7 linked regions of the Homo sapiens genome follow. The protein of the gene in region 4 interacts with the protein of the main gene of each other region in a pairwise test. Each region holds a gene or a part of one and is shown on either strand. Other genes may lie near its edges. The genes, in order: NUP62, PIH1D2, TPM3, HSF4, SOX10, YTHDF1 and ZMYND12.

What was found.
Region 1: the proteins of HSF4 (region 4) and NUP62 interact in binary tests that used the Homo sapiens proteins (3 or more experiments, as listed by UniProt).
Region 2: the proteins of HSF4 (region 4) and PIH1D2 interact in binary tests that used the Homo sapiens proteins (3 or more experiments, as listed by UniProt).
Region 3: the proteins of HSF4 (region 4) and TPM3 interact in binary tests that used the Homo sapiens proteins (3 or more experiments, as listed by UniProt).
Region 5: the proteins of HSF4 (region 4) and SOX10 interact in binary tests that used the Homo sapiens proteins (3 or more experiments, as listed by UniProt).
Region 6: the proteins of HSF4 (region 4) and YTHDF1 interact in binary tests that used the Homo sapiens proteins (3 or more experiments, as listed by UniProt).
Region 7: the proteins of HSF4 (region 4) and ZMYND12 interact in binary tests that used the Homo sapiens proteins (3 or more experiments, as listed by UniProt).

The regions. Positions count from the first base shown.
Region 1 is NC_000019.10:49,922,515-49,926,690, forward strand, and holds part of NUP62 (nuclear pore glycoprotein p62), read right to left. Parts: intron 1-4,176. UniProt on the Homo sapiens protein: Essential component of the nuclear pore complex. The N-terminal is probably involved in nucleocytoplasmic transport.
Region 2 is NC_000011.10:112,067,034-112,071,429, forward strand, and holds the end of PIH1D2 (PIH1 domain-containing protein 2), read right to left. Parts: intron 4,251-4,396; coding exon 4,005-4,250; intron 3,669-4,004; coding exon 3,403-3,668; coding exon of another isoform or gene 3,394-3,402; intron 973-3,393; coding exon 838-972; 3' UTR 765-837; downstream 1-764.
Region 3 is NC_000001.11:154,178,359-154,182,534, reverse strand, and holds part of TPM3 (tropomyosin alpha-3 chain), read left to right. Parts: intron 1-4,176. UniProt on the Homo sapiens protein: Binds to actin filaments in muscle and non-muscle cells. Plays a central role, in association with the troponin complex, in the calcium dependent regulation of vertebrate striated muscle contraction.
Region 4 is NC_000016.10:67,162,850-67,167,544, reverse strand, and holds the start of HSF4 (heat shock factor protein 4), read right to left. Parts: upstream 2,801-4,695; 5' UTR 2,734-2,800; coding exon 2,611-2,733; intron 2,024-2,610; coding exon 1,915-2,023; intron 1,827-1,914; coding exon 1,699-1,826; intron 1,600-1,698; coding exon 1,475-1,599; intron 1,226-1,474; coding exon 1,150-1,225; intron 988-1,149; coding exon 923-987; intron 426-922; coding exon 323-425; intron 85-322; coding exon of another isoform or gene 71-84; coding exon 1-70. Other genes in the region: FBXL8 (F-box/LRR-repeat protein 8), read right to left, coding at 3,725-4,695. UniProt on the Homo sapiens protein: Heat-shock transcription factor that specifically binds heat shock promoter elements (HSE).
Region 5 is NC_000022.11:37,971,484-37,974,903, forward strand, and holds the end of SOX10 (transcription factor SOX-10), read right to left. Parts: intron 2,716-3,420; coding exon 2,012-2,715; 3' UTR 829-2,011; downstream 1-828. UniProt on the Homo sapiens protein: Transcription factor that plays a central role in developing and mature glia.
Region 6 is NC_000020.11:63,205,456-63,209,631, forward strand, and holds part of YTHDF1 (YTH domain-containing family protein 1), read right to left. Parts: intron 1-4,176.
Region 7 is NC_000001.11:42,438,842-42,443,017, forward strand, and holds part of ZMYND12 (zinc finger MYND domain-containing protein 12), read right to left. Parts: intron 1,185-4,176; coding exon 1,015-1,184; intron 1-1,014. UniProt on the Homo sapiens protein: Required for sperm flagellum function and male fertility.

The sequences.
Region 1 (4,176 bases), on a different chromosome or scaffold from region 4:
CAGCCTCAATCCTCGGAGACTCTTGGAATGAGGGCTGGGTTCCTTTTGCTCTCTGCTGTGGACAGAGAGGATGACAGCTGTGGGGAGGGGAAGTCACAGAGGGCCAGCAGCCTGAGTCCTGTCCACACTGGTGGTTTGCTGGGGTTTTCCAGGTTTTTCTGAATTACTTGCCTACCTTTAAAACTTGGATCTCACAGAAAAAAAAAAAACTGGATTTCCAGCTTCTCCCGTGAAACCAGCAGCTTTGCACCACCAGCGCTGCCAGTGTTGCTGCGGCCCCGGTGCCTTTCAGGGGCCCAGGTGCTTCTGGGAGCCACCCCTCCCTCTGGGCCTGACACAGGGCCCAAGGTGGTCAGCAGTTCACCGGTCCAGGCCTCTTCCCATGTCAACCCCCTGCCCCTCCACACTGCCCCAAGGTAGTTCTATGATTGTGCCCATTTTACTGATGAGGTGACCACAGGTCGGGGGGTACAGTATCTTGTCCCAGACCACTAAGCGGTGAGTGATGGCATCCTGGGCTCTAGGACACTGGTGTCAGTTGTTATCAGTTTGCTGTGTCCCTTTTTTTTTGCATAAGAGCTGTGACTGCTTCTACTGAAGGGACAAGGGCAGGCACAAGGGAGGGAAGGGGCTCTGGAGGACTGTGGGCCACGTGGCAGCCTGTGCTGTCTCCCAGCCCCCGCGTCATCCTCTCCCCAACTGAGCTGGCCTTGGCCTACCTGCCCTTGTTTGCCAGGACTCCCACCTTCAACCCCGGCACCCCTGGCCTGCGTGACCCAGTTACCCTCCCTGGCTCCTCTCAGGGACCTCAGTATCACATTCGCTGGCCTCTGTGCTGAGCAACTCATTAGAAAATGTATTGATGCCTACGGAAATAGCAGCACAGGGCGGGGGGTTGTGGGGAACGTTTCTGGGAATGAGGAGGGCCCTGACTTTGCCCTCGAAGCGTTCGGGGGAGCAGTCACGTAGGCAGACATCTGCACACGGCGGATCTGAAAGCAGAAGCAGGCGTGGCGAGAACAGAGAGAATCACACACAGACCCGGGCTCTGGCAGCCGCCGGCTTCACTGATGCCATCTCCACAGCGCTCCCACACCAGGCCCCAGAGCAGGAACTACTGCTCACAGGGCATTTCCCTATGCCAGGCCCCACTCTAGGTATTTCACGCACATTTACACATTTAATCCTCAAAACCACCGTCTGCAATGGACCATCTCATCCCCATTTTACGGAGGGGAAACTGAGTCATAGAAAGAGGATGCCACTTGCTGAGGGTCACAGAAGTGGTGGAGTTGGGGTGTGAACCCAGCAGGCTGGCTCTAGGGCCCATGCTCTGACCCACGCTGCGGAAGGCAGCCGAGGCTCGGCAGATGAGGGCCCTGCCTGCACTCCAGTCTACAACTGAGTGCTGGGCTCAGGACCAGAACCCCGGTCTGTCTGATGCAAAACTCGGAGCCTTTTCCATCATGCCAGGAGGCCACCGTGATTGGGAAAGCAGTGAGGAGTTGCGGCAATAGCAGGGCGATGGCACGGTGCAGGTGCAGGCAGGAATCGATAGCGTCTGGCAACTGTGAGCAGCAGCAGGCCTGAGGTGAGGGTCAGGGCTTGGAGACCTCCCAGAGACTACACCATGGGCCTCGGGGCCCTGGAAGCTGTGCAGCATGGTGGAGGCTGAGGTCCCATCTAACTGGCACTGTGATTTTCACAACCCCCCTTACCTCTCGGGACCTCAGTCTTGACTCCTGCTAACAAGCCTCTGTGATCTGAGGCCCCTTCTTGGCACCGAGCCTCAGATTCTCAGGGTCCTGCACGGGTGGCTGATCTCCCTCCCTCTCCACACCACCCCTACTCTTGCTGTGCGGGGGTTCTCCCTTATCCAAGGCTCTGCTAACCGGGAGCGGTTGCCAGGTGTGCTGGGGTCCCCAGAGAATCCCCGAACTCCCCGTCCCCGTCAAACAGCCAGGGCTGATGCAACCTGCCTGCAACCACCGCCTCACTCCCCAAGCCAGGCCCCTCCGCACCGAAAAAGAGTCCCCAGTAGCCCCACCCTTGCTTCAAGCCCCAGCTCAGGAGTTGAAGGGGAGCTCGAGGCTGGGGGAGGCCAGGACATGAGTCCTGAAGGGGCCACAGGCCTGGGTCAGGAATGTGCACACGAGGGGACTCAGGGTTCGAAGATCTGGGGAGAAGGGTCGCAGGCAACCACTGATGACCGGCTATGAACTAGAACAGGCTGGGAGGGGCTGGAGAGCTAAGGGTGCCAACTGGCACCCACTCACCCTGAGTCCAGCTGCTAAGTCTGGCTGGGCTGAAGTGGGTGGGACCCAATAGCTAGAGAGAAAAGGCGGCAAAACGGTGGGGAGGGGAAGCAGAGTCCCTGCCCAGACACCTCTGCAGCCAGCATAAACCGCACATAGCCAGCAATGCAATTCTCCTACTGACCAAGCTATTAAAAATTACCCACACCGGGCCAGGCGCGGTGGTTCACGCCTGTAATACCAGCACTTTGGGAGGCTGAGGCGGGTGGATCGCCTGAGTTCGGGAGTTCGAGACCAGCCTGACCAACATGGAGAAACCCCGTCTCTACTAAAAATACAAAATTAGCCATGTGTGGTGACACATGCCTGTAATCCTAGCTACTCGGGAGGCTGAGGCAGGAGAATCTCTTGAACCCAGGAGGCAGAGGTTGCGGTGAGCCGAGATGGCACCATTGCACTCCAGCCTGGGCAACAAGAGTGAAACTCCGTCTCAAAAAACCAAAAAAATTAAAAAACAAAACAAAACAAAAAACCCAGGCCGGGCACAGTGGCTCAGGCTTGTAATCCTAACACTTTGGGAGGGTGAGGCAGGAGGATCGTTTGAGCCCAGGAATCAGGAATTCAAGACCAGCCTGGGCAACATAGTAAGACCCTCCCCCCCATCTCTACTAAAAAAAGCCAAAAAAAAAAAAAAATAGCATCCTACCTGGCCATCCTCTCAATATCCCGCAATCCCAGTCTGAGACAAAACCAAATGGAAGCACATTCCATAAAATACCCAACCAGCATTTTTCCAAACTGTCAAGGTCATGAAGGACAAGGAAAGTCTAAAACCAGTCACAGGCCAGAGGAGGCTGCGGAGCCATGATGCCTAAATATAACGTGGCATCCTGAAGGCATCCGGAAGGAGCAGAAAGGGCATTAAGTAACAACTACCAAAATCAGCATCAAGTGTGGTCAGAATCAAGAATGGCATTTGGTCAATGGTAACATACTGATGTTGCCTTGGTTGTGACAAATGTGGCAAAGTAATGTAAAATGTTAATGGAAAAAACCAAGTGAGGGGCATACAGAAATTCTCCGTATTATCTTTGCAACTTTTCTGTTGAGTCAATCTACAATTATTCCAAAATAAAAAATTTTATTTAAAAAATAACCCCCTTGGGTACGGTGGCTCACACCTGTAATCCCAGCACTTTGGGAGGCTGAGGCAGGCAGATCACGAGGTCATGAGTTCGAGACCAGCCTGACCAACATGGTGAAACCCTGTATCTACTAAAAATATAAAAATTAGCCAGGCATGATGGTGCATGTCTGTAATCCCAGCTACTCTGGAGCCTGAAGCAGGAGAATGGCTTGAACCTGGGAGGCGGTGGTTGCAGTGAGCTGTGACGGTGCCACTGCACTCCAGCCTGGGCAACAGAGCGAGACTCTGTCTCAAAAAAAAAAAAAAAAAAAAAAGCTAGGTCTTGCTTAAGACTGGGTGTGGTGGCTCATGCCTGTAAATCCCAGCATTTTGGGAGGCCGAGGTGGGTGGATCACCTGAAGTCAGGAGTTCAAGACCAGCCTGGCCAACATGGCAAAACCCCGTCTCTACTAAAAATACAAAAATTAGCCAGGCGTGGTGGTGGGCGCCTGTAATCCCAGCTACTTGGAAGGCTGAGGCAGGAGAATTGCTTGAATCTGGGAAGTGGAGGTTGAAGTGAGCCAAGATCATGCCACTGCACTCCAGCCTGGGCGACACAGCAAGACTCTGTCTCAAAAAAACCAAACCAAACCAAACCAAACCCAGTCCCCATGTACAATCTAGAAGATCTTCGTAGGAAAAGATTCTACCGGCGGGGCGGGGGAGATAGGGCACGTCTGTGCGTCCTTACCACTGGCAGTCTGCCCAACAGTCTACCCTTAATTCCATCTGCTT
Region 2 (4,396 bases), on a different chromosome or scaffold from region 4:
GCCTGGGCAACACAGCGAGACTCAGTCTCAGTGAAGTACAGAGGTTAAATAGGCTTGAATATTATATTTGACCCTGTATTTTTATTGTTGGAGGAGACTCACTGATATGGCCCATCCTGATAATAAAAAACTTCTTGCACAGTCTGGAATTTCTTCCTGATAGAAAAATTTACTAGAGACTTTTTCAAGCAGTAAACCAAGAGTTCTCACTTGTTACTTGGAAACAATTAGAATTTTCCCAAATTATAAGTTACTTAAGATATTTTTAAAACAAGTGTGTCATAGCAATAGTTTTTAATTCTGGTTGATGTTTATTTGAGAAGAAGTGAGTTAAAAAATATAAGACATGGCCAGGCATGGTGTCTCATGCCTGTAATCCCAGCACTTTGGGAGGCCGAGGCAGGTGGATCACCTGAGGTCAGGAGTCCAAGACCAGCCTAGTCAACATGGTGAAACCCCGTCTCTACTAAAAATACAAAAAAATAGCTGGGCGTGGTGGTGCATGCCTGTAATCCCAGCTACTCGGGAGGCTGAGGCAGAATCGCTTGAGCCCATGAGGCGGAGGTTGCAGTGAGCTGAGATCGTGCCACTGCACTCCAGCCTGGGCAACAAGAGCGAAACTCCGTCTCAAAAAAAAAAAAAAAAAAAAAAAATATATATATATATATATATATATATATTTGACATAACAGGTGAAGAGAAAATCTCAGTCAAAATGAACTTAGAAAATAATGGAATTGGTGTTTAAGATAAACTACTACCTCTTTAGCCAAAATGAAGGTCCTTTAATTCACATGACTTTAGCACTGAAAACCCAAAACATATGATGCTCTTCTTTCACACCAAAGGCATTGTGATGATTAGCGTGGATTTTTCTTTGATAAATTTTGCTGTGGTCATTTCAGTATCAATAAGTTTTGGAAGATTCAGATGTAATCTGTACTTCTCAGATACTTCAATCAATAAATCATCCTAAGAATAATAAACCAAGAGATTTATTTCCTGCTTAAAATTTGGGATACTAACTTATTGTTCCCAGTTATTCACTCCTTTGCCATAAAAAGATCCCATTTGTTGCCATGTGACTTGGAATGAGCAAAAAATTACTGTTGTAAATCCCTTAGATTTTAAGGTGGTTACTGCTGCTCACTACATCACACGTTAACTGATACAGTACCACAGTAGAGTGTTGCCATCCTAAATTATGTGGCTGACCAGCAAACAGCAAGGAAACTTATTGGAGCCTGGAAAGGTAGTGATCCATGTTTCATAATGATGAAGCCTTTAGTGAAACTATCACAGTAATTTGGATGATAAATACTCTGTGCCTAGTTGATTTGTGGCTTTAGGTGAAGAAGTGGGAAAATAGATGGTAATGTGTTGGTTCTGTTCACTACATTTAACAGGATATTACAAGAAAGATGAGCTTAGAATGGACCATTTTGCAAGTCAAATTAAAAGGGAATTGGCTGAGTGCGGTGGCTCACACCTGTAATCCCAGCACTTTGGGAGGCTGAGGGCAGGTGGATCACTTGAGGCCAGGAGTTCGAGACCAACATGGGCAACATGGCAAAACCCCGTCTCTACTAAAAATACAAAAATTAGCCAGGCTTGGTGGCACATGCCTGTAATCCCAGCTACTCAGGAGGCTGAGGCAGGAGAATCGCTTTAACCTGGGAGGCAGAGGTTGCAGTAAGCTGAGATGGTGCCACTGCACTCCAGCCTGGGCAATAGAGTGAGACTGTCTCAAAATAAATAAATAAATAAAAAGGACTTTATAGAGCCCCAAGATTCCAAGACTCAATGACTGAAAAGTGGAACTAATTTTTATTTTCAGCAAGTAAGGGATAAAATTGAGAAATTACTTTTATCAACCAAGCTGATTAAGGCAATATAGAGGCAAAGATTAAATCTTTATGCTCTTTGTTAAAACCTCTGAATTTTTTTTGTTTTTTTTTTTTTTTGTTTTTTTTTTTTTGAGGGGAGACAGAGTCTCGCTCTGTTGCCCAGGCTGGAGTGCAGTGGCTCGATCTTGGCTCACTGCAACTTCCGCCTCCCGGGTTCAAGCAGTTCTCCTGCCTCAGCCTCCTGAATAGCTGGGACTACAGGTGCCCACCACCACGCCCGGCTGATGTTTTTTTTGTATTTTAGTAGAGATAGGGTTTCACCATGTTGCCCAGGCTGGTCTCGAACCCCTGAGCTCAGGCAATCCACCCCCCTTCGGCCTCCCAAAATCCTAGGATTACAGGCATGAGTCACCGTACCCAGCCAAAACCTCTGACTGTACTAAGGTGGACTTCAGTAAATCCTTACATTTGGCTAAAATGACAGCAATTAAGTCTAAAGAGACAGGTAAGTCTTGAAATATGGGCAATGTCTAAAAAGGAATTATGGGTATCACTGACTGGAATCAAAATGCTACCAGCCTGGACTAAAAGAAACTGCCTTCAAAATTTAAAACAATCCTTTGAGCCCCAAGATTCCATGAGCAGGAACCAGGCTGAAGAGGCTACTTAGCATATAAGAATGGCACATTCTCCGATACTCTTCAGATGTGGCCAAGGTGGATAGTGGGAAAGGGAAAAAAAAAGAAAACATCTTCCTGAAGACTGAAGCTAAAGGTCGTGGAAAAAAATGGAACTGGGGAGCTAGGTAATTACAGAACTTTCTCAAGGAACCTAAGTAAGAACATCCTCTACCTCCAGAAAAGGAGCCCTCACAATGTCTGCCTACTAGGATTTCAGAATTGCTGTGCACCAGTAACTGCAGTGTGCCTCTTATTTTTCCCATTTCTGAATTGAGATGGTTAATTACGGTTATCTTCTCCCCATTCCACATTGCATGACAGATGGGACTGAGGGAGTACATAACTTTTTTTACATGTCTTAGTCCATGGTTCAAGAGGAAGAGAAAGCAAAATTCTGTCCTTTGGAGTCTGATACTGGGATTGGAGGTGTTTTCCTTCCAGAAAGAAGCAAATATTTGCAACCAAGAGTGTAGACTGGTAGACTGTAGGACTGACTCTAACTATTTGCTCTTCTGTAAGAGGATAGTACGTTTACCCTGCCATATGACTTCCTGTGACTGTGAGAATACACTTCTCAGTCCTACTGATGTAGAACTGGCCTTGTGACTTACTTTGGCCAGTGGAGCGTGAGTAGAAGTGATATCATGAAGTGTCATGTCTGAGTAGAAGTATTACGATCCACTGCATGGTTTGATCATTCTATTTTCCCTTTGCTGAGATGTGAATGGCACATCTCAGAAGGGAATTGCTCCTTCACCGGGTAACCTGAGCAAATCATTGTAAGCCCCTGAAATTATGTAGTTTGTTACTGTGGCATAATATATGTTAGTGAATGCTGGCCAATACAAATTTACAGTGTTATCTATTCAACTTACCTCAGAAACACTAAGGTCACAGAGAGAGACAGAATTAATACCAGGTAATTCAACTTTCAACTCAATTTTCAGAGGTTTCTCACTGTGATCATGCACAATTTTTAGTTCATAGGCTGGCATCTTCATCTCCACCTGGATTTCAGTACTGGAAATCTCTTCTATCAGACACACTGCTTTGCCTGAAACTTGGTCTTTTGGCAGTAACAGTTGAGGAAAGTGATCTGGATTGCTCATAGTACTGCTTCGTATCTGTCCAAGAGTTAGTTCTTTATGAAAAAAAGGGTGGAGGGGAGATAAAAAATAAATCTACAACATAAAATACTATGAGCTATAATATATGTGGTGTTAGTAGAGATGGTAGATAAAGCTGCAGTTAAATTAGTTTGGGAATCAAGCCAAAAGAATCTTAAACCAAAGAATTTGATTGAAAATTTTTCAGGATTTAAAAATCAAGGATATGATATTTCTAATATTTAATATTTGCATTTTTCTATCTTAAGTTTTTCACCTTTTAAAATAGAGATTTCTAGTTTGCAAAATGTATACAGGATCCAAAAACATCTTAAAGCAGTTTAATTTTCCATTTACAATCATCAACTTACCCCTTCTCATTTTTTCTCTTAAATCTATGGAATCAGTTTGGATTCCCATCAGATTTTGTTTCATTCTTTGAATGCTTCCTTTTATTCTAAATTTGGTAATATGGTAAGAGTGTGAGAGGGTGAACTGGAATTTCTCCTCAATGCATTTCATGGCCATCTGAATTAACTGATTTTTTTTCACTTGGTCCTTTTCTGCTGCATGAAGAACATCAGGATTGTAGGCAACATCAATGACTGTGTAAGCATCTGTGTGTGTAATTGAAAGGGTATGAAATGAAGAAAAATTGTTGCACTAATGATACTGTCAGGCAATATATTAAACCATATTCCTGATAAAGCTAGAGAATATTCCTGTATTTTTCAGAGGTAATCACAGTAGTGCTACAGCAATT
Region 3 (4,176 bases), on a different chromosome or scaffold from region 4:
GGTGAGGGTTTTGGGGTGGGAACCGTCGGAAAGACCCCGGCCTGCCTGCTGGCAGCTTTTCCGCTCCCTCCTCCTGCTCAGGAAATGAGGCAGCAGTTGGCTGAGAGGAAGCGCGGTGCCCTCCCTCCCTGGAGGAGCTCGAGGCCACAGGACCGCCTCTCATCCTCTGGCCAGGGGCCCTTTCCTCTTACGGGGTGCTCTTGCAGCTGCTACACCCACTCTCTGAATCTACGTGAAACGGCAGGGGAGGGGATAGTACTTCTCTCAACGTTAGTGCAAATGTAGGAGCCAACCAAACTTGCCTGGCCCTACCCACAATGACCTGGAAGGCAGGAACTTCTGTCAGATTCAGGCCTTTATTGCTGAAGTGTGATCAGTGCAAGCCGAACTGGTTAAGAACATTTCTTCCGAGCAGAGCTGATAAGCGAGTGTATGGCAGAGAATCAGATGGTGTGCCAGTCTCAAGGTTTCTGATTGACTTGGGCAATTTGGTGGAGACAATAATGAATTCCAGGTGACTCTAGTGGAATATTTGTTCAACTGAAAGTGGAAACATAAAATGTTGGTGGAGTGAACAGTGATTCTAGTGATTTCTTTCTTCCTTTCTTTTTTTTGAGACAGAGTCTCACTCTGTCGCTCAGGCTGGAGTGCAATGGCATGATCTCGGCTCATTGCAACCTCCGCCTCCCGGGTTCAAGTGATTCTCCTGCCTCAGCCTCCTGAGTAGCTGGGATTACAGGTGCCCGCCACCAAGTCTGGCTAATTTTTTGTATTTTTGGTAGAGACGGGGTTTCGCCATGTTGGCCAGGCTGGTCTCGAACTCCTGACCTCAGGTGATCCACCCACCTCTGCCTCCCAAAGTGCTGGGATTACAGGTGTGATCCACCGTGCCCAGCCTATTCTAGTGATTTCTTTAAACGTCTTTCTGTTTAAAAGTGGCTGATTAGTTTTAGTGTAAGCCATAAGATTTTCCAAGGTCTAGGGTGCAGTCTAATAGATGGAGCTGATACGAGTTGAGGCTTTGTTTTGGAGGATCTTGAGAGAGTAAAGTAACTGTTGCTAAAATTCAAGATCCAGTGAAAGTACTCATGTGGTTTATTCTTTGTTCTTTGTTCTTTCCCTTGGTAAGTTTTTGTTTTTGTTTTTCTTTTTGGCTGCTCCTCTGGGAAATAACTGAGAATGTTTTTGGGAGGGGGAGGGGTGGATTTCAGAAAAGGATGGTAATTGGGGGACAGCTGCCCTCCAGTTTAAATACTTAAAGATTGTTGGAATACTCACTTATTTTTATAAGTGGTCATGGAGATGCTGGGATGGGAGCTTGTTGTCTTCCTCAGACACCTTTTTCTAGGTAGATTTTTTTCCTCTGTTCAGTTTGCCAACAACTTCTTATTATCTGTGCAAGTGAGATGGACTGGCTGGGTGACTCTTTATGGCCAGTGGCACTTTCTCATCTCCTTTGTTCTGGAGACCAGATAGCTTTAAAGGGGAAGACAGAGGAACTGGCCATGTGTTGAGCTGCAGAATCTTAGGCTCAGTATTTAAATATGGACATTCTAGGAGTAGTTCTAAGGTGGGTGATTCCTGCCTCCCATCCCCCCTCTTTTTTTTTTTAGATGGAGACTTGCTCTGTAGCCCAGCCTGGAATGCAGTTGCACGATCTCTGCTCACTGCAACCTCCACCTCCCAGGCTCAAGTGATTCTCCTGCCTTAGCCTCCTGAGTGGCTGGGATTACAGGCATCCACCACCACACTCGGCGATTTTTTTTTATTATTTTATTTTTTTATTTTTAGTAGAGATGGGGTTTCACCATGTTGGCCAGGCTGGTTTCAAACTCCTGACCTCAAGTGATCTGCCTGCCTCAGCCTCCCAAAGTGCTGAGATTACAGGCATGAGCCACTGCGCCTGTCCTGGGGTGATGTTTCTTAAGCTACTTTCACTCAGAGCCTGCCAAATTTGCTTATTGAGCTGAGGTCTAGTGAGGAAGTCCTCAGAATGGGGAAGTAGAGTTATAGTTAAATATTGATGAAATCATTTCTTCTACTCCCCAGCCTGAAGAAGCTTAATCTTTTGACTTTCTGCTGCTCTGCTGAACTTTGAACCCCTACTGAGGAGGAGACACCTGTGGGAAGGGAGGGGGGTTGCTTGGGCTACCTGTTATCCTCTTAAGGCATTCTGGAATGTGGGTTTTGCAGACTCCTCCCTCCTCTGGAGCGGGAAACTGCACTCTCTGATGGTATCTCATGCTGTTAGTGGGATTGTCACTTAATTATTTTCCTGGTTACTTTGTGTGAACATCCAAGCCACCCTTGTTGGGAAGCTAGATGAGTCTAAAACTGAGACACTGGTGTTCTAGGATCCATCTTTCTTTTCTGCTCTCGGCCTGGAAATTGGTCTTTTATAATGTAGCACCTTGTCAAATTTACTTTCAGTTCTGTATTTCCTTTTTACTTCTGTCTAAATGGAAACAGATGGCAACATAATGTTTAAATGCAGTCTTTTTCCTTATCTCTTTTTTTTTGTGGTAGTGGTGATAAAAATACATGTAAAATTTACCATTTTAACCATTTATAAATGTACAGTTCACCTTATCTGTTTTTAATAACTCTCTCCTAATTGTCCCTGATATTTTTCTCTTTTTAATTTTTTTCTAGTCTAAAAAACTTAAGAGGCTGGGTGCGGTGGCTCACACCTGTAATCCCAGCCCTTTGGGAGGCCTAGGCGGGTGGATCTGAGGTCCACCTGTGGATCTGATGAAACCCCATCTCTACTAAAAATACAAAAAATTAGCTGGGCATGGTGGCGCATGCCTGTAATCCCAGCTACTTGGGAGGCTGAGGCACAAGAATTGCTTCAACCCTGGAGGCGGAGGTGGCAGTGAACCAGGATTGGATCATGCCACTGTACTCCAGCCTGGGCGAGTATCGGCACTGGGGGAGTGAGGGGTCAACTGCGGGAGTGTAAGGTCAGCACACTACCTCTGCCTCAAAAAGAAAAAAAAAAGTAATAACAAAAACCTTAAGAGTACTACCGAGGGAGTGGGCTTTGATTCTGGCCTTAATCCTAAATTCCTAGTCTCTGGAGAGGTTAGAATGCTTGACTGTTGTGTGGTTCTCTTCTATTCGTGGGCCTGGTGGACTAAGCAACCTTTCTTTGGTTGCTTTGCTTTCCTTTCTCTTTCCCCAGTACTAGAACACACACTCACAGGGGAGAGGCAGATAGCCCTTTACCCCTGCTTAGGCTCCGCCTTTGTTTACTGTGGGGCAGATAGCTCTACTCCCTTCCAACTTGCCTCCCCTTTGGTGAAGTTTAAATTCCCCAAGGACACGGTATCTCCCTGGGTAATGCATTTGTGAGCACAGTGAACTCAAATAGTCCTTTACTCACAGGGCTCAAGCCTAACTTTCTGATACTCTTTCATTTGAATTTTATCTGTGGCTTTTATCTAATAAGAGAAACCCCAGTGTGGCAGAAAGCCAGATTTAGGCTAATCCCCTTCTGTCCTTGGCCCTGTTCTGCCTGAGAGTACCATCACACTGTCAGTTTCTTGCCTGGAGGGGTTGACATATTTGGGAAATCTCTTTGGAGTGGAGGATAGCCGAAGGTGTTGTCAGCCATCTGGTAATGTGACTGAGTTGCTGGGGCATTCTACTCTTTCCCCAATCCCTCACCCAGGATCTTTGCTTCCTGGGCAGTGGAGAATCCTATTATTACTTGAAGGGAAGAACCACAGAGTACTGTATATCCTCCACACTGGGCAGAGATAGGTCAGCTGAAACACCAAAACCGCATCTGGATGGGCATGCTAAAACCTAAGATGATTAGGAAAGTGCAGAGCTTAACGTTTCCCAGGGCCACAGGTAGCCTGGTCTGCAAAAAGTAGGCCTGTTCAATCTCTTGGTACCCATTGGTATTATTTGACCTGAAAGGGACAGGCACTGTGCATAGACTCATGAGGGAAAAGTCAGCTTGTCTTCCTTGTTCCTTTAAACAAAGTATCAGATCTTGATTCTGCAGGCTTTTGTTTCATTGTAAAGAGAACTGATCCTCTGTGCTAGGAGAAAAGAGAAAGGCAAGGTCCCATTCCCTACCACTCCACCCTGGAGGGGGTCTCTGAAGCTTTTTCTAGGACTCCCATCTCAGGTTCTGCTTTTGATACAGGCTTGTTCATGTGTGCA
Region 4 (4,695 bases):
CTGGGATGTCAGAGATGATGGGGCCCCTGGCCCTGTGAGGGCTAAGGCCCAAATTTGTCTCTGGGAGAGGCTGTAAGTAGAAGGCTAGGCCCAGCCCTTGGCCTGTAGGCACAGGGAGAGCCAGAACCCCACCAACACCCACCTGGGCCAGGTCTAAGGGAGAAGGTTTGAGGGAGGAGGCTCAGTCCATGCTGGAGGGCCTGGGTCTGGTTGGGGGGAAGGCTGGCTTCCATCTTCTCTTCCTTTTAGGGGATGGGGAGAAGGAACAGGCTCTCCATAAGCCCAGCCATGCCCTTGGGAAGGGGGAAGAAGACAAACCTACCGACTGGATGAAGTAGGGGTCCTGCAGAAGGGCACCAGGTAGAGGGCAGGTGTTGAACTTGGCAGGTGTTGGGCATGAGCTCCCCTCATCCAGCATCAGGGACCTGTGTGGTCGATCAGGGCACAGGCAGGGGTGGGGCAGGGTCAGCCCCCATGCACCTCGGCCTGCACTTCCCTCCCTCCCTCAGGCCCCAGCAGCCAAGTCAGCAGAGCTGAGGCCTGTTGCTAGGGTGTCAGTCACATGCTGGAGGTGGAAGGGGCTCCCCCTAGAGATGGGGGCCCTTTGTGGGTAGAGAGGGGAGGGAGGGAACCTGGTTTGAGCCCCAGGGTCTCAGCTGTTGGGAAGCCTTGCCGGAGGGGGAAGGGGCTGCTGGGGTAGGAATTTGGGAATAAGGTCCTGGAATGGGAGGATCTGGGAGTGGGGATACCAGGTGGCAGAGTTGGGGGGAAGTGGATCCTAGATGGGGTGAGGAAGCCTGTAGCGCAGGGGGAGGAATGAGGATTCCCGGTGAAGGAGTTTCCAGAGGAGAAGGGGTCCTTGCAAGGGGACTTCTGGGGGGTCTTGGAAGTGGGTGTGGGCCTTCTTGGCTTTCTCACTCACAGCTTTCTCTTGCCTCCTGCATTGCTCGGCCCCGCCTGAAGTGGCCCAAAGAGACACTGGATCAGCTGAAGAGAAAGCAAAGGTTTAATTCATACTTTGGACACAGCCCCCCCACCCCCGCACTTCCAGGTGAGGGAGGAAGGCTTAACAGGGGCGCCGGGGGACTGGGCGGTGGAATGGGGTGTCGAGGAGTGGGAGGGAGAAGCGAGGCTTGGGGAGAGGAACACCTTGCCAATGACCCGGTGCTGCTGACCGTGGCTCTGCCGAAGTGTCACCACCTCCCGCCACAAGATCTCGTTCTGCCTGAGGAAGGGGTGGGAGGGTGCTGAGGCATCTGAGAGTTCGCCCAGTCACCACCCCCCACAGAATGGCGAGGCTGGGGACCCAGGAGACCACCCCGCTGACTGGCCATCCCAGAGATCGCCCATAAGTCTAGATGGAGGCGCCAAGGCAGGAGAGAGGAAGGGGCTGCCCAGAACTGCTGGCCGGCCAGTTATGGTCTCATCCCGAACCCCCCACCCCTGTCCCCTCTTTCCCCGCCCGCCCCCGCACTGCCTGAGCTCCCGCAGCCGCGCCTCGGTGCTCTCCTGCACTCCCCGCAAAGCCTGCACCTCGCCCAGTAGTCGACCCAGGTCCTCCGGGCGCCAGCGGCCGTCGTCGCCGCGCAGCGCGGGCACCTGCAGGCGGGAGGCACCGTCGGGACTGGGTCGCAGGAGCAAGGCAGGCAGTCCCAGCACCCCTCCTCCTCTTTGCTCATTCCCGCAGGCCGCCCCCACCTTGCGCCGCACGCGCTCCAGTAGCTGCTCGCGGCCGCGCACGAAGCTCGGGTGCTGGAACTCGACGTGGTCGCGCTCCGGCCTAAGCAGGCCGCCCTGCTCGATGCTCACCACCTTCCGAAAACCGTCTGGGGAGTGGGGCGTGGGGGCGTGGGTCGCCCCATCCCCGGCACCGAGTCCCCCATCCCCGCTCCCCGCCCGGCCGTAGGGACTCACACATGTTGAGTTGGCGCACGAAGCTCGCCATGTTGCTATGCTTGAAATACTGGGGCAGCACTTCCTTGGCGAAACGGCTCTGGTCGCTTACGAGGAAACTGGTCCCGCTCTACCAAGAACGCCGCCCGCCCACCGTGCGGGCGGAGACCAGGAGGGTGAGCGGTGCCCGCTCACGGCCAGTCCTGCGCTCCAGCGCGCGCACACACTCATGCTCACTCTTGGGTCCAGGCCTGCCGCTTACGGGGATATGGGTCGAGGCCAGGCCAGAACGGGCTCCGAGGCCTAGCCTGGAGCGACCACAGTGAGTCCCTACCCCCAGCCAGACCCTGACTCCATACTCAGTTCTCAGAAAGGAGAGGCTGACGGGGTTCCCAGCCCCGCAATGTGACCCTGAGCTAGACCAGCCCTTCCCATCTCCCGGCCTCTGTTTTCCCATCTGTCGGATGGGGTAGGGTGGGAACTAAATGGCCTCGAAGGTCCCTCGGACTCTAGGTCTTCAGAAGGCAGGCTCCTAACCCTTCTTCGGCCGCAGAGGAAACCCCCCTCTCGCACACCCCCTCCAAGGTGAACTTCTCTGAATGGCCAAATCCGGGGATCCACGGCCCAGTCTCAGGAGGGGGTTGGGCGGGCATGGGTGTTCACTGACGTGGAGGGACCCCGGGACCACAGGGGGAATCGAGGGGCCCCGGCCCTCACCGGGCTCCAGCGGATCAGGTGGTCTGTGCCTGGGTCCCCCACCAGCGCCCATAGCTTGCCGAGGAAGGCAGGCACGGGGCTGGGGCCTGGCTCCGTGGGCAGCGCAGCTGGCGCTTCCTGCATGGTGCAGTCTCGGCCCGGCTCTGCGCTCGGGCCCGGCCGCTGCGGGCTCGTCAAAGCCGCGGAAAGTGCTGCGTTTGCCGCCCGCTCCGCCCTACTCCGCCCCGGGGCGCCGGGTCAGGCGGGGGCCACGTGCAAGCCCGCGGGGCGGGGCTCGGACAGCGGCCGAGGCACCAGCAGGCAGAAAAGGCTGGCTGGATGGGATGTGTGGAGTGGAGTGGAGTGGAGGGGTGGGGTGGGGTGGAGTGGGGTGGGGTGGGGTGAGATGAGTGGGAGACTTGGGTTCGAGTCCCACCCCTCTCGGTCCCTCTATTTCCTTCTTTGTTCTACAGGAGAAATCGCCGGTGCGCGACCTGGTGTGGGCTGGGCAAGTCCTAGAAGGTAATGGCCAGAGGCACAGTGAAGCCCCAGGCAGGGCAAGCAGATAGGAAGGGGGGGCAGGGAAGCACGCCCCCTCCCGCCGAACCCCGGGACGTAGTCATTCCAAGGGTGTGAGTGCCCCGACCCTGACCCCCCGCAGCTGTGTCGTCCAGAGGCTCTTGAGGAAACCCAACCTCTGCCGGGATGGCTCCTCCGGTACCCCGCGCGTTCCCTGTCCTTCCCTTTCAGATCCGACCCCGCCTTTAATAGGACGCAGAAACACTGCAGGATTTGTTTATTTCACACTCACCCTTGAGGCCCGGCCCGCGCCCGTGCCCTCCCTCTCCCTGCGCCGGGGCCGCGGAGCTGCAGAGTCCGCAGAGGGGTGGAGGCAAGAGAGGGGGGCAGTGTGTCCAGGACCGAGCGGGTGGGGCGTCTGCAGAGGGTGAGAGCAGCGAGTGGTCTCAGGGCGCCCAGGACTGGTCCCGATGCCATCACAGTTCCCAACTCGGTAAAGACCCGGGGGGCAACAATCCCAAAAGAAGGCACTAGCACTCGGGGCGCGCCTGGACACCCCCCCCGTTCCCTCTCAGAGCGCTTACGTCCACGGGGACGGGGGAGAGAAGTCGCCCAATCACGCCACGAGCGTAGGCCTCCAGGGATGCGGCTCGCGCGTGAGCTTGAGGGTATAGGTGCGCAGGCGCGGGCAGTGCGCGCGGAAGGCGTCCAGCACCGAGTGGCTCACCACGCAGAAACAATGCACCTCGCGCAGGGCCGCGCAGCGCGCCGCCAGCTCCTCCAGCGCGGCGTTCAGCTCGGCCGAAGCGGCTGCGCGCACCTCGAGCGCGCACAGGGTTGCGGCGTAGTGGTGTGCTGCGAAGCGCACTGGGCCTACGGTGTCGCCTGAGAGGTTGAGGCGCAGCGCAGCCACGGGGACGGCTGGCTGCAGGACGCGCGTCACGCTCTCAGCGGGCAGCGCGGGCTCCAGCTCCAGCTCCACTGCCAGCCCAGGGTGGCGGCGGCGCAACGCGACCCAGGCTTCGTTGGGCAGCGGGGACGCGCGTGCATCTTCGGGGCACGCGCACCGCAGAGCCAAGAGCGCGAAAGGCGCTCGGTCTGGCGCCGCCAGTGCTTCGAGGATGGCGTGCGACAAACTGGCTAGGTGCAGGCCGAGAGCGCGCAGGCGCGGGCAGGCCTCCAGTAGCTCGAGCACTGAGCCGGGACCCACGCTGCCCACTAGGGTACTGTTGTCCAGAAAAAGGCTGTGGAGCTCGGGACAGCTGCGCGCCGCCTGCAGCACCAGCGCGTCGTCCAGTGTGAAGGACAAGCGCCGCAGGTCGAGGTGGCGTAGCTGGCTGGCCGCCCCGCATACAGCGTGCACAGCCTCCAGGACGTCGCGGCCCGCGTCGAAGAGCGGTTTTTCTCCGCGGCACTCCAGGCGCAGGCCTCGCAGCCCCGGGGCACGGCCCGCCAGAACCATCAGCAGCTCGATGGCCGCCCGGCGGCTCGGCTTCCTCGATGGCTCAAATTCCAGCCGTAGGTTGTGAATGTGGTCGAGGCAGGCGGACAGATAAGGTGGCAGCATGCCTTCCAGCTCACATTCGC
Region 5 (3,420 bases), on a different chromosome or scaffold from region 4:
TGCTTGTGAGGTGGAGTGGTCCTGGCCTCTGGGTGCAGTTTGGACTTCTGCTGAGGAAAGAGCTCTTAGGGAGTAGGCGCTTAAGGAGTAGACTGTCTGACATCCTTGGTCTGGACTTGGACATGGGCACCTGCTGTGAAGGCTTGGCTAGATCCTGGCGTGGGCTGCTGTGTGTGTGCTGGGGGAGGTGGCAAGTGGGGGGATGCAGCAACACAGGGCCTATCCACACATCCTGAAGGACAGGCCTCTGACTGCAGGCAGCACGGTGTCACCCTCAGCCCACCTCCTCCTCTTCAGATACCTGTCTCTTGAATTCTTTGCAAACTCCCGTCTGCTGAGTGCTGGGTGAGCAGAGGGGCTGCTTGCAAGGCAGTGAGTTCTAGCTGAGCCAGTTAAGAGTGAGTGGCCCCCCTGCAGTGTGGGGCATAGCCGCCGGGCTGGGGAGAAGTTCCCATCTGAGGCTTCAGTCCCTGAGCTCAGATGGACCCCACTGGGATGCCAGCTGTCCTAACACTCTCCATTGTTCCCACTTTCTTAGCAGGGAGAGAGACAGAAAGAGAGAGAGGAGAGTGGGAGGGGGGAGAGAGAGAGAAAGGAGAGGGGGAGGGGGGAGAGAGAGAGAGAAAGAGAGGAGAGAAGGGAGGGGGGAGAGAGAGAGGAGGGGGGAGGGGAAGGGGGTGGGGAAAGAGGGAGGGAGGTGGGAGAGAGAGACCTTTGATGATCTATCCTTTGCATTCTACTCCTAGCTACTTCCAGAAAGCATTTGAGGAAGCACCAGTACAGGGATAAGAGATGAAGAGACAGGCCAGGTCAGGCTCACCAAGCAGGTAACCGGAACCTTTAATTTTATTATGTGGAATGCTTAATGCAGAGTTAATAGGGGCTAGAGTGGCTAGGAGAGGGGACTACTGAGATAAATAACAGGAGACAGTAATGAGTTACATGTGGATTTGGGGGGCTGCAGAACAGGAAAATAGGGGCAGATATAGCTACATACTTTATTCAAATACCACTGGGAGGCAAGGGGTAAGAGGCAAGGGCAGAATGTACAGGTCAGGATTCTAGTGTCTTCAGCCTGCCGACAGCAACCTGGGTGCTGGGCCCTGTGTCTCCTGGAGCCAAGGGTTAGGGCCTGAGCAGCTGTCACTCTCTGGGAAGCCCAGGGAGTGGGGCTGACTGAGCAGGGGCCATAGAGCCTAGTAAGGGAAGAGGGAGCTGGCAAGGAGCCCAGGGAGGGAGGCTCTGTGAATTGTCTCTGATTCCTTTCCTGGAGCCCCTGCCTCGTCACCTCCTGGGATGCGTCTCAAGGTCATGGAGGTTGTAGTGGAGGAGGACTGGGGGCTGTTTCTCAGACAAAGAATGAGGTTATTGGCACAGAATTGGATCAGGGGGCCTCTGTGCCAACTCCTTCCTGCCTTCAGAAAGGGAGGGGGCATTGAAGGGATGAGAACTCCACTAAGTCCCTCGAACCCCCCACTCCCCAATGAGGCTCCTCAAAGCTACTCTCAGCCCCTGAGTGGGAGACACGGCCAGCTCCGGGCACAGTCTCTGGGTGGCCTAGCCCTTAGGCACTGTGGCATAGGTGGCATGGGCATGTCAGACCCTCACTATCTGTGAGAGAGAAAACAGGAGTCATAGGAGTGGTAAGGCCTCCGATGCCACCAACCCTGGTGCTTCCCCTCCCCGAGGAGGGTGAGCAGGCCCTTCTCAGGTCCTGGGATAGAGGGTCATTCCTGGGGGAAGGTGCAGCCCCTCATCTTTCAGTGTGGGTGCAACAGTCAACCTCCTTCTCCTCTGTCCAGCCTGTTCTCCTGGGGCTTTGCTGCTGGAGCCTGGATGGGGCGGGTGGGTCATCAGGGCAGTGAGCCAGACAGAAAGCCCCCCGACCTGTCAGCCTCTTCAGCCTCCTCAGCCTCCTCCACTGCCACCACCAGGCCTGAGGTGGGCAAGGAACAGGGCACACAGGCTGGGGGCAGGGGCTGGGCGGGGGGTGGTGGCGACAGGGCCCCCTTTAGGGCCGGGACAGTGTCGTATATACTGGCTGCTCCCAGTGTGTGGGGCTGTGGGACTGGGGCCCTGAGGGGCTGGGGTCAGAGATGGCCGTGTAGAGGGGCCGCTGCGAGGGCCCCATATAGGAGAAGGCCGAGTAGAGGCCAGAGGCCTGGCCCGAGTGGCCATAATAGGGTCCTGAGGGCTGATGGTCAGAGTAGTCAAACTGGGGGCGGGAGATGGAGGGGAAGGCTGAGCCATAGTGGGGCAGGCTGAGGGAGGTGTAGGCGATCTGTGAGGTGGATGGCTGGTCGGTGTAGTGTGGGGGCCCCTGGGGCCCCGCGGTCTCTGTCTTCACCTGGGCTTTGGCATCCACACCAGGTGGTGAGACCGTGGGCAGAGCCACGCCTGGTGGCTTGGAGATCCAGGCGGAGTGTCCACTGGCCACGGCCAGGGCACTGCCCAGCCCATAGCCGGCTGCTGAGTAGCTGCTCACATGGCCTGGGTGCCCATTGGGCGGCAGGTACTGGTCCAACTCAGCCACATCAAAGGTCTCCATGTTGGACATTACCTCGTGGCTGATCTCACCAATGTCCACGTTGCCGAAGTCGATGTGAGGCTTCCCGCCCTCCCCCATGGAGCGCCCGTCCCGCTTCGGGTCTGCCTTGCCCGACTGCAGCTCTGTCTTCGGGGTGGTTGGAGGGGTGGGTGGGCCATGGCTCTGGCCTGGGTAGAAGGGAGACAGAGAGAGAGAGCGCAAGGGGGAAGCAGGTTAGAGGCAGGTGGGCGCACGTGAACTTCCATGGTTCACCTTCAGGCAGCGGGTGCCTCTGGGAAAACCTTGTAAGTTTCACATTTTGGCAGCATGAGTCGGGTTTTTTTTTGTTTTTTTTTTTTGAGATGGAGTTTCGCTCTTGTTGCCCAGACTGGAGTGCAGTGGCGCCATCTCGGCTCACTGCAACCTCTGCCTCCTGGGTTCAAATGATTCTCCTGCCTCAGCCTCCTGAGTAGCTGGAATTACAAGCGCCCACCACAATGCCCAGCTAATTTGTGTATTTTTAGTAGAGACGGGGTTTCACCATGTTGGCCAGGGTTGTCTTGAACTCCTGACCTCAGGTGATCCACCTGCCTCGGCCTCCCAAAGTGCTGGGATTACCATCATGAGCCACTGCGCCCCACAGCATTTGTTTAAATACTGGTGTCTTAGATTGATCTCTAGTTGTTTATGAAATTCTCAAATCTTAGGGATGGGTCCTGGGGAGGCCTGCCTCATTCTGAAAAAACCTTTCCTGTGGAAAGTTCTTCCTCTCATCAGCTTCTCTGCTGTCCAGGTGGTCTGGCCCAGCCTTTGCGCTCTGCCAGCCCCGCTTCCACACCCATGCCTACTGTCTTCCTTGCTGAGCCTCGCTCGCCCAGGCTCCTGAGTGCTCT
Region 6 (4,176 bases), on a different chromosome or scaffold from region 4:
TTTCTAATTTTCTTCCTGTTGACTTCTCCACTTGTGAGCAGACAATTCCAGAACCCCCCCCTTTTTTTTTTGGGACGAAGTCTCACTTTGTCGCCCAGGCTGCAGTGCAGTGGCACGATCTCAGCTCACTGCAACCTCCGCCTCCCAGGTTCAAGCGATTCTCATGCCTCAGCCTCCCAAGTAGCTGGGATTACAGACACCCACCACCACACCCGGTTAATTTTTGTATTTTTAGTAGAGACAGGATTTCATCATCTTTGCCAGGCTGGTCTCGAACTCCCAACCTCAGGTGATCCACCCGCCTCGGCCTCCCAAAGTGCTGGAATTACAGGCATGAGCCACAGCGCCTGGCCCCAGAATCATCTTTTAAAATGCACTAACTGCTGTTTCCCCGTAATATAAATTTGAGATTCTGGGGGTATAAGAAGACAAGTGGGATGCTATCAGTGTTCCACAAACATGAGATTAATCTGAGCTTATTCTCCCTCAAAACAGTTTCCATGATGCTGGCTCCTTTGCTGCAGCCTTTCCCTCGGGTGCTGCCCTGGCCAACAGGCCCAGACTGGGGGGGTGAGCGAATCAGGGGGGCGGTCTGTGCACAGGACTTGCTCCTCGAGTCACTGGCCGCAGGTGCCTTCAAGGACGGCAGGCAAGGGGACAGTCCCCCCCACAGGGAAGCCAGCCCTCCTCCTCCCATTAGCTGGACACGTGCTCCTCAGCAGCGCTGCAATCACAACACATCTTCCTTCCACGCAAAAAGAGCAGATGGGAAAAAAAGACCTCGATGGCTGTGTGGTATTCTAATCCACTTGGCCCCAACACCAACCAGAGGAGTCAGGCCACAGAAACAGATGCCCAGGGACACTTCTGACTTACACCTAAAGCCTTAACTAAGACAGGACATCACTTACCACATGAAAAAATCCACATTACATGAGGCATGTAACATTCCTGAAAATCCGTTTTAAGTATTAAATGGACACACCTAGCACACACGCTGCACAGACAGAGAGCCCATAAATGACCCATCCAGCTTCCCTCTACCCAAGGTGCAGGGCCTGCAGTTCTAGCCAGTACTCTGCAAATCCTTCAGCTCCAGATCACCACCATTCACATCCTGAGCCACAGAAGACGGTGACGCTAATCAGCTCTGCTGGCAGCCCTAAACCCTCCTGATACTTTCTGTGCTCACCGGGTTCCACGGCCACACAGGCAGGCTGGATACAGTGACCTGGGGTTCTGTGGGCCGGATTTCCATTTTTACCTCAATCTCACTGACAGCCCATTTCCTATTACATCTGCCATCTTTCCTCCAAAACTCTGAAGGTAAAGAAGCAGGTTAATTTGTAAAGCTATGTGAAGTCAGTCATTCTGTACATAAGAAAACCTGGAGATGCTGTCCTCTGCCTTCTTTATGAGCCACATGTCAGGCTGCTGCCCCACACTCCTTCCCTGGTGAGGGAAGCTGTCCCATTCACAGTCCTGGTCACAGTGCGTGGGAGACAACTGGAAACGCACAGTTCGGGCTGCCTGGAAAACACATGCAGCCTCCTTTCAGGGCCTTTGATCTCCCTTTGTCTCCCGCACAGCCAGGCACAGGTTCAGCGCTCACTCGCTGCCAAGTGCTGGAGGCGAGCTGTGCTGCTCCCTCAACATTCCTTAGTGCCACGGCTCCATGGGCACTGAGTTATGAGTGTGAAAGTTTACTTCTCAGGGATACAGCTGCATTAACCCCGGGCACGGTGACTCATGCCTGTAATCCCAGCACTTTGGGAGGCTGAGGTGGACGGATCACAAGGTCAGGAGATCAAGACCATCCTGGCTAACACTGTAAAACCCCCCTCTCTACTAAAAACACAAAAAATTAGCCGGGCGTGGTGGTGGGTGCCTGTAGTCCCAGCTACTCAGGAGGCTGAGGCAGGAGAATGGCGTGAACCCGGGAGGCGGAGCTTGCAGTGAGCCGAGATCGAGCCACTGCACTCCAGCCTGGGTGACAGAGCAAGACTCTGTCCCCCCCACCCCCCTCCAAAAAAAAGAACAAATTCAAAGCTTGTTCTTAACACATTACTACCTCTGAGCAAGCATATTTTGGTCCTCGTAAATGAGTGGCATAAACAGATCTTTTAAGGACAATACAAGCAAAACCATGATCCTGTTACTCTGCAGCCGCCTCCACAGAAGACTGCTGAACACTTCCACATGCTAGGCGCCTCACTGCAGCCCCTGCGGAGAACTGACGACCTCATCGAAGAAAGGCTAACACATTTTTAGCCGGGCACAGTGGCTCTGGCCTGTAATCCCAGCACTTTGGGAGGCCGAGGCAGGTGAATCACAAGGTCAGGAGTTCGAGACTAGTCTGATCAATATGGTTAAACCCCGTCTCTACTAAACCGGGTATGGTGGCAGGCACCTGTAGTCCCAGCTACTCCGGAGCCTGAGGCAGGAGAATCGCTTGAACCTGGGAGGTGAAGGCTGCCATGAGCCAAGATCACGCCACTGCACTCCAGCCTGGGTGACAGAGTGAGACTCCGTCTCAAAAAAAAAAAAACAAAAACAAACAAAAAAGAACTAAGAGCAGTTTTACATATTTACTCAAATTTAACCACATTAAAAAAAAGAAACTTCCATCCGAATGACCAGAACCATTTAAGTTGAAGTTCAATGGTTAAGTTTACTTCCTATATCCATTTTTCTGAGATGGAGTTGGAATGACCAAAAGGAGAGACTAGAGGGAGAAGCAGAAAGGATCCCTTCAGAAGCCCAAGAGGAACAGAGAGAAGCATTTGCTTAATAAAAACAAACAAACAAAACAAAATAATTAATTATGTAAAATGGAAAAGTATTAAGGGTACTGCTGAAAAGTGAGGGAGTGATATGGCTCCTGGGAAGCAGCTCTGACCCAGGACTGGGAACAGGCCTACCAGGATGACCTGTTCTTCAGGAGAAGCCTTAGGGAGCACAGAGAAAATGTTAGAGGAAAATAACCGAAAAACCCTAATTTACTTACTTGGCTGCTCACTTTTCAGATCTGTTTTCAGGACTGGTCCCTCTGAGGCTGCAATTTCAGCCCCTCAGCTGGTGGCATCAATATGCAGAGACAGCAGTTTCTGACAGAATTTCTGCATTTGTTTCAGCAACTTGCCAGTAAGAAGCACGTTAAGATCCCACTATGTCCTTCCAGCTGCGTTTCTGGGAAGCCGTTGTGATGGCAAATGCCTACTTAGCAGGCGCTGCCACTGGGTATTTTAAGGAAGCCCATATTTTTAGATGCAGCCACAAGAAACTGACACTCCCCTGCTGGCCCTCAGGTCACCCCGGGCCCACCAGAGCTGCCCAGGCACAGCAGGAAGCCCTGTGCCAAGCATCTCCAGGCTGTTCTCAAAGAAGTCCTAGATGCTCTGATGAGGCATTGTGTTCAGTGAAAAAAAACCACCCAAAACCTGATGAGCAATTTCGTCACTGTGTGATCAGTGTCCTCACACAAACAGAGACGTGTGAGCATGGAGGCAGTATCCTTACCACACACTGAGGCCGTAACCTGTACAGTGTGTAACTGTACTGAATAATGGAAGTAACTGTACATCAATGATAAGTATCTGTGTGTCTAAACATTATCTAAACACAGAAAAGGTACAGTAAAAATACGGTATAAGAAATCAAGAACGGGACACCTGTACAGAGCACTTACGGTGAATGGAGCAGGTAGGCCTGAGTTGCACTGGGTGAGTCAGGGAGAGAATGTGAAGGCCTGGGCCCTCACTGGACACCACTGTCACCTTTAGAAACACCGTCCACTTAACACTACACTCAATTTTTAAATTTTCCTTTCTTCAATAATAAACCCTAGCCTACTATGGCTTTTTTACTTTACAAACTACTTTTTTAAAAGCTTTAAGGTTTTTGACTCTTTTGTAAACACAAATATATCATATAGCTGTACAAAAATTTTTTTTGTTATATCCTTATTCCATAAGCTTTTTTCTATTAAATTTTTTTTAACTTTTTGAACTTTTTTGTTATAAATGAAGACACGGCCAGGCACAGTGGCTCATGCCTATAATCCCAGCCCTCTGGGAGGCCGAGGCAGGAGGACTGCTTCAGCCCAGGATTTCGAGAACAGCCCAGGCAACACAGTGAGACCCCATCTCTACAAAAAATCAAAAATAAGGCAGGAAG
Region 7 (4,176 bases), on a different chromosome or scaffold from region 4:
ACTGCAGTCTGACTCTACGCTAACTCAGATTTCACGCCCAGGAACTCTTTTCTCTGGTAATATTTTCCAGTACTGAAATCCTAATAGAAACCCCTTAAATTTTGAAAGAACAATTCAGTTATCATCCTCAACATCCCATCTAACTTTGTACAGAGTTTTATCATCGATAAGTGCTTTCTTATACATCTAGCTCTTTTAAATTTAATAACCAACACTCTGAAGTAGAGATATTACTGTTATTTTTTAAAATAATAGCCAAGGTACTATACATTTATTGTCCTATTATTAATCTTCGCAATGACCCAGTGAGACAGAGACTATTTTATTATTCCTGTCTTGCAGGTGATGAAAGAGGTTAAACAAATTTTCCAAGACGATGTGGCTAGTGAAACAGATCTGTGACTAGAAGCAAAGCCCTTCTCTCTCTCTCTTTTTTTTTTTTTGAGACGAAGTCTTGCTCTGTCGCCAGGCTGGAGTGCAGTGGCGCGATCTCGGCTCACTGCAACCTCCACCTCCCGGGTTCAGGTGATTCCCCTGCCTCAGCCTTCCGAGTATCTCGGACTACAGGCATGCACCACCACGCCTGGCTAATTTTTTGTATTTTAGTAGGGACGGGGTTTCACCATGTTGGCCAGGACGGTCTCAATCTCCTGACCTCGTGATCCACCCACCTTGGCCTCCCAAAGTGCTGGGATTACAGGCATGAGCCACCATGCCCGGCCAGCAAAGCCCTTCTCTTAACGAGTATGCTGTTTTGCCTCCCTTTACTCTTCAGGGCAACTGAAACTTCAGGAATATGTGACCTGGCCAAGGTTGAATAGCTATGAAGTAGAAATGCTTGAACTCGGGTCGGTAGAATTGTGTTATGGCTAACATCCCACCAAATAATCAGTTGTAAACAGAAAGTTTTAGAGAAATGCACAGTTTTAAAAAAATTAAACAGATTTTGGAAATATACAGGTGTTATAATTTAGATTTTGGAAATATACAGGTGTTATAACTTAGCTTGTTTACATCATTGGCCAGATGATAACGGGCCTCTTCATAGTTTTTCTTAGCTATATAGAGAAGTCCCAGATTCCGATGCAGTAAAGAGTGGGTGGCATTACTACAGTCAGTTGATTTGAGGACTGTCCACTGGGCTTGGAATAGATATTCTTCAGCCTGAACGATTCGGCCCAGACCTGCCCAAAAGCAGAAAAGAAGGTTATAATTCATATCCAGGCCAAAGAACACATGAGGAAATATGAGTCATTACCCATTCACTCATGTATTCATTGACTCAAGTATTTATTGACACAGAAAAACTCATACAGGAATGTTCACAGCAGCCTATTTGGAAGAGTAAAAAAAAAAAAAACAGAAACAATGTAAATGTCCATCAGCTGATGAGTGGATGAACAAAAGGAGGCATCTCCATCTCCATCTCCATCTCCATCTCCATGAGTGGAATATTACTCAGTCATAAGAAGGAATGAAGTAGTGCTACCTGCTATAATGTGGATGAACTTTGAAAACACTATACTAAGTGAAAGAAACCAGACACCAAAGGCCACATATTGTATGATTCCATTTATATGAAATGTCCAGAATAGGCAAATCCATAGAGACGGAAAGTAGACTAGTGGTGGCCAGGCGACAGGGGGAGTCCAATGCAAGGGAGGCACTAACAGGGGGTCCAATGCAAGGGAGGCACTAAGAGGGAGTAACTGCTGACAATTACAGGCTTTCTTTTAGGGGTGATGAAAATGTTGTGGAAATAGATCATGGTGATTGTTGCACAACCTTCAGAATGTGCTAAAACCAACCACTGGATTGTCCTTTTTTTGTTGTTGTTGTTGTTTTTTTGAGGGAGTCTCACTTTGTTGCCCAGACTGGAGTGTAGTGGCGCGATCTCGGCTCACTACAACCTCTGCCTTCAGGTTCAAGTGATTCTCATGCCTCAGCCTTCCAAGTAGCTGGGACTGCAAGCATGCACCACCACGCCCCACTAATTTTGTATTTTTAGTAGAGACAGGGTTTCACCATGTTTGCCAGGCTGGTCTCAAACCCCTGACATCAGGTGATCCACCCACCTCGACCTCCCAAAGTGCTGGGAATACAGGCGTGAGACACTGTGTCTGGCCTTAATTGTTCTTTAAAAGGGTAAATTTTATGATATGTGAATTATATCTCAATTGTGAAATATATATATGCATATTTAATACCCTTTCTGTGCCAGGCCTTGTGTTGGGTGATGGGGAATCAAAGTGCAACATGAAAACAAATATATTTACAATATAGTATAATTGCAATAGCAACACAAGCTTTGGAAGTGTCAGAGGATAGGAAATGTTTAATTCTATAGATGAGATGGAGAGGGACACTGAAGCAGAGTCTGAGCTGGGTTTTGAGGATGAATAGAAGTTTTCCAGGTAGATAAGGCAGGGAGAGCATCCCAGGCAGAAGTAACAGCATGTGCAATGTCATAGAAATATGAAATAATATGTTATGTTCATAGAACTATATAGAGTCACAGCTGCAGGGAACTGGTTCCAGAACCCCCATCAGATACCTAAATATAAGGATGCTCAAGGCTCTAATATAAAGTAGTGTAGTATTTGCATATAACCTATGCACATCATTCCCTATGCTTTAAATCATCTCTAAATTACTTATAATACCTAATACAAAGTAAATGCTATGTAAATAGTTGTTCTACTATATCATTTTTGTCTTTTTTGTTTACATTTTTTCTTTTTTTGTTTATAAGCCCACAAGTAACATCATGTATTGTTTTGTTTTGTTTTGTTTTTTTGAGACGGAGTCTTGCTCTGTCGCCCAGGCTGGAGTGCAGTGGCGGGATCTCGGCTCACTGCAAGCTCCGCCTCCCAGGTTCACGCCATTCTCCTGCCTCAGCCTCCCAAGTAGCTGGGACTACAGGCGCCCGCCACTACGCCCGGCTAATTTTTTGTATTTTTAGTAGAGACGGGGTTTCACCGTTTTAGCCGGGATGGTCTCGATCTCCTGACCTTGTGATCCGCCCGCCTCGGCCTCCCAAAGTGCTGGGATTACAGGCGTGAGCCACCGCACCCGGCCGTATTGTTTTTATTTGTATCATTTTTAATCATTGTATTATTTTTAAAAATATTTTTGACCCATGGTTGCTTGAATGGGCAGATGCAGAACCTACAAATATGGAGGGTGTAGGGACTGTATCGGCCTGTGATGCTGGAGCACAAATTGTGAAAGACAGAATGGCAGAAAATGAGGCTATGGTGGTAGGCAGGGGGCAGGTCATGGAGGGCTTAGTGAGTTATACCAAGGAACTTGATGCATGTGGATAAAAACTAGAGGATTTTCAAAAAGGGCGAGAGAATCAGATTTAAATTTAGAAAGATCCTCTGGAACCAATGTGGAGGAGGGACCAGAGGGGAGGAATAAAGGTAGAAGATTCACTGGAAGATGTCTGAAATAGTTCGGACAAGCACGCTTAAGAGCCTGAAACAAGACAGTGAACTAAAGAGGAGGAGATCAAAAAGAGACAGGAAGTAAAATGGACAACACACGGTTACTAAGTAATGTGGAAGGTAAGAGAAAGGAAAGCCACATTTATTGCTAATATTTAGATACTCTTGACACTTAAAGCTTTTTGTGTATTACATATCATCTTTATATATACAGAGGCCTGCCTACCTGCTTGACTCCTGGGGAAATTTGTCAGAACAGAATAGAAAGCCACTACGTCAGTGTGCTGCAGGGTAGGAGGCGTGCTCTGGGGGCGAAGCATTGGTGTGATAGGTGCTGCAGCAGAAATGGCATCAACAAAGGGTTAAGAGGTAAGGACACGAACCCCTCATAAGCCAACCCTCTGCTCCTCTGTGTCCTTCCTGTCAGACCTAGTTCATATGTAAGCATGCTTTTATTCTAGTTGTAACCCTACATCACTGAATTAAAGGAAAAGAGATGAAGAGGAAGCAGTCTACAAGAAGAAGGAAGTAACTTTGCCTGATGGAAGGTCAAAGTGCAAACTAAAATGGGAAACTACTAGATTAGGAGCACGAGGCCTAGTCCCTGATCCTGGCTCATGTGAACATGGCAAGTCACATCTTCCCTCCAGGCTTTGTCTATAAAATATGAGGTTTAGGCTGAAGTCCTCTCACATTTGAAGAAGCAAATGACTCTTAACTAAGATTG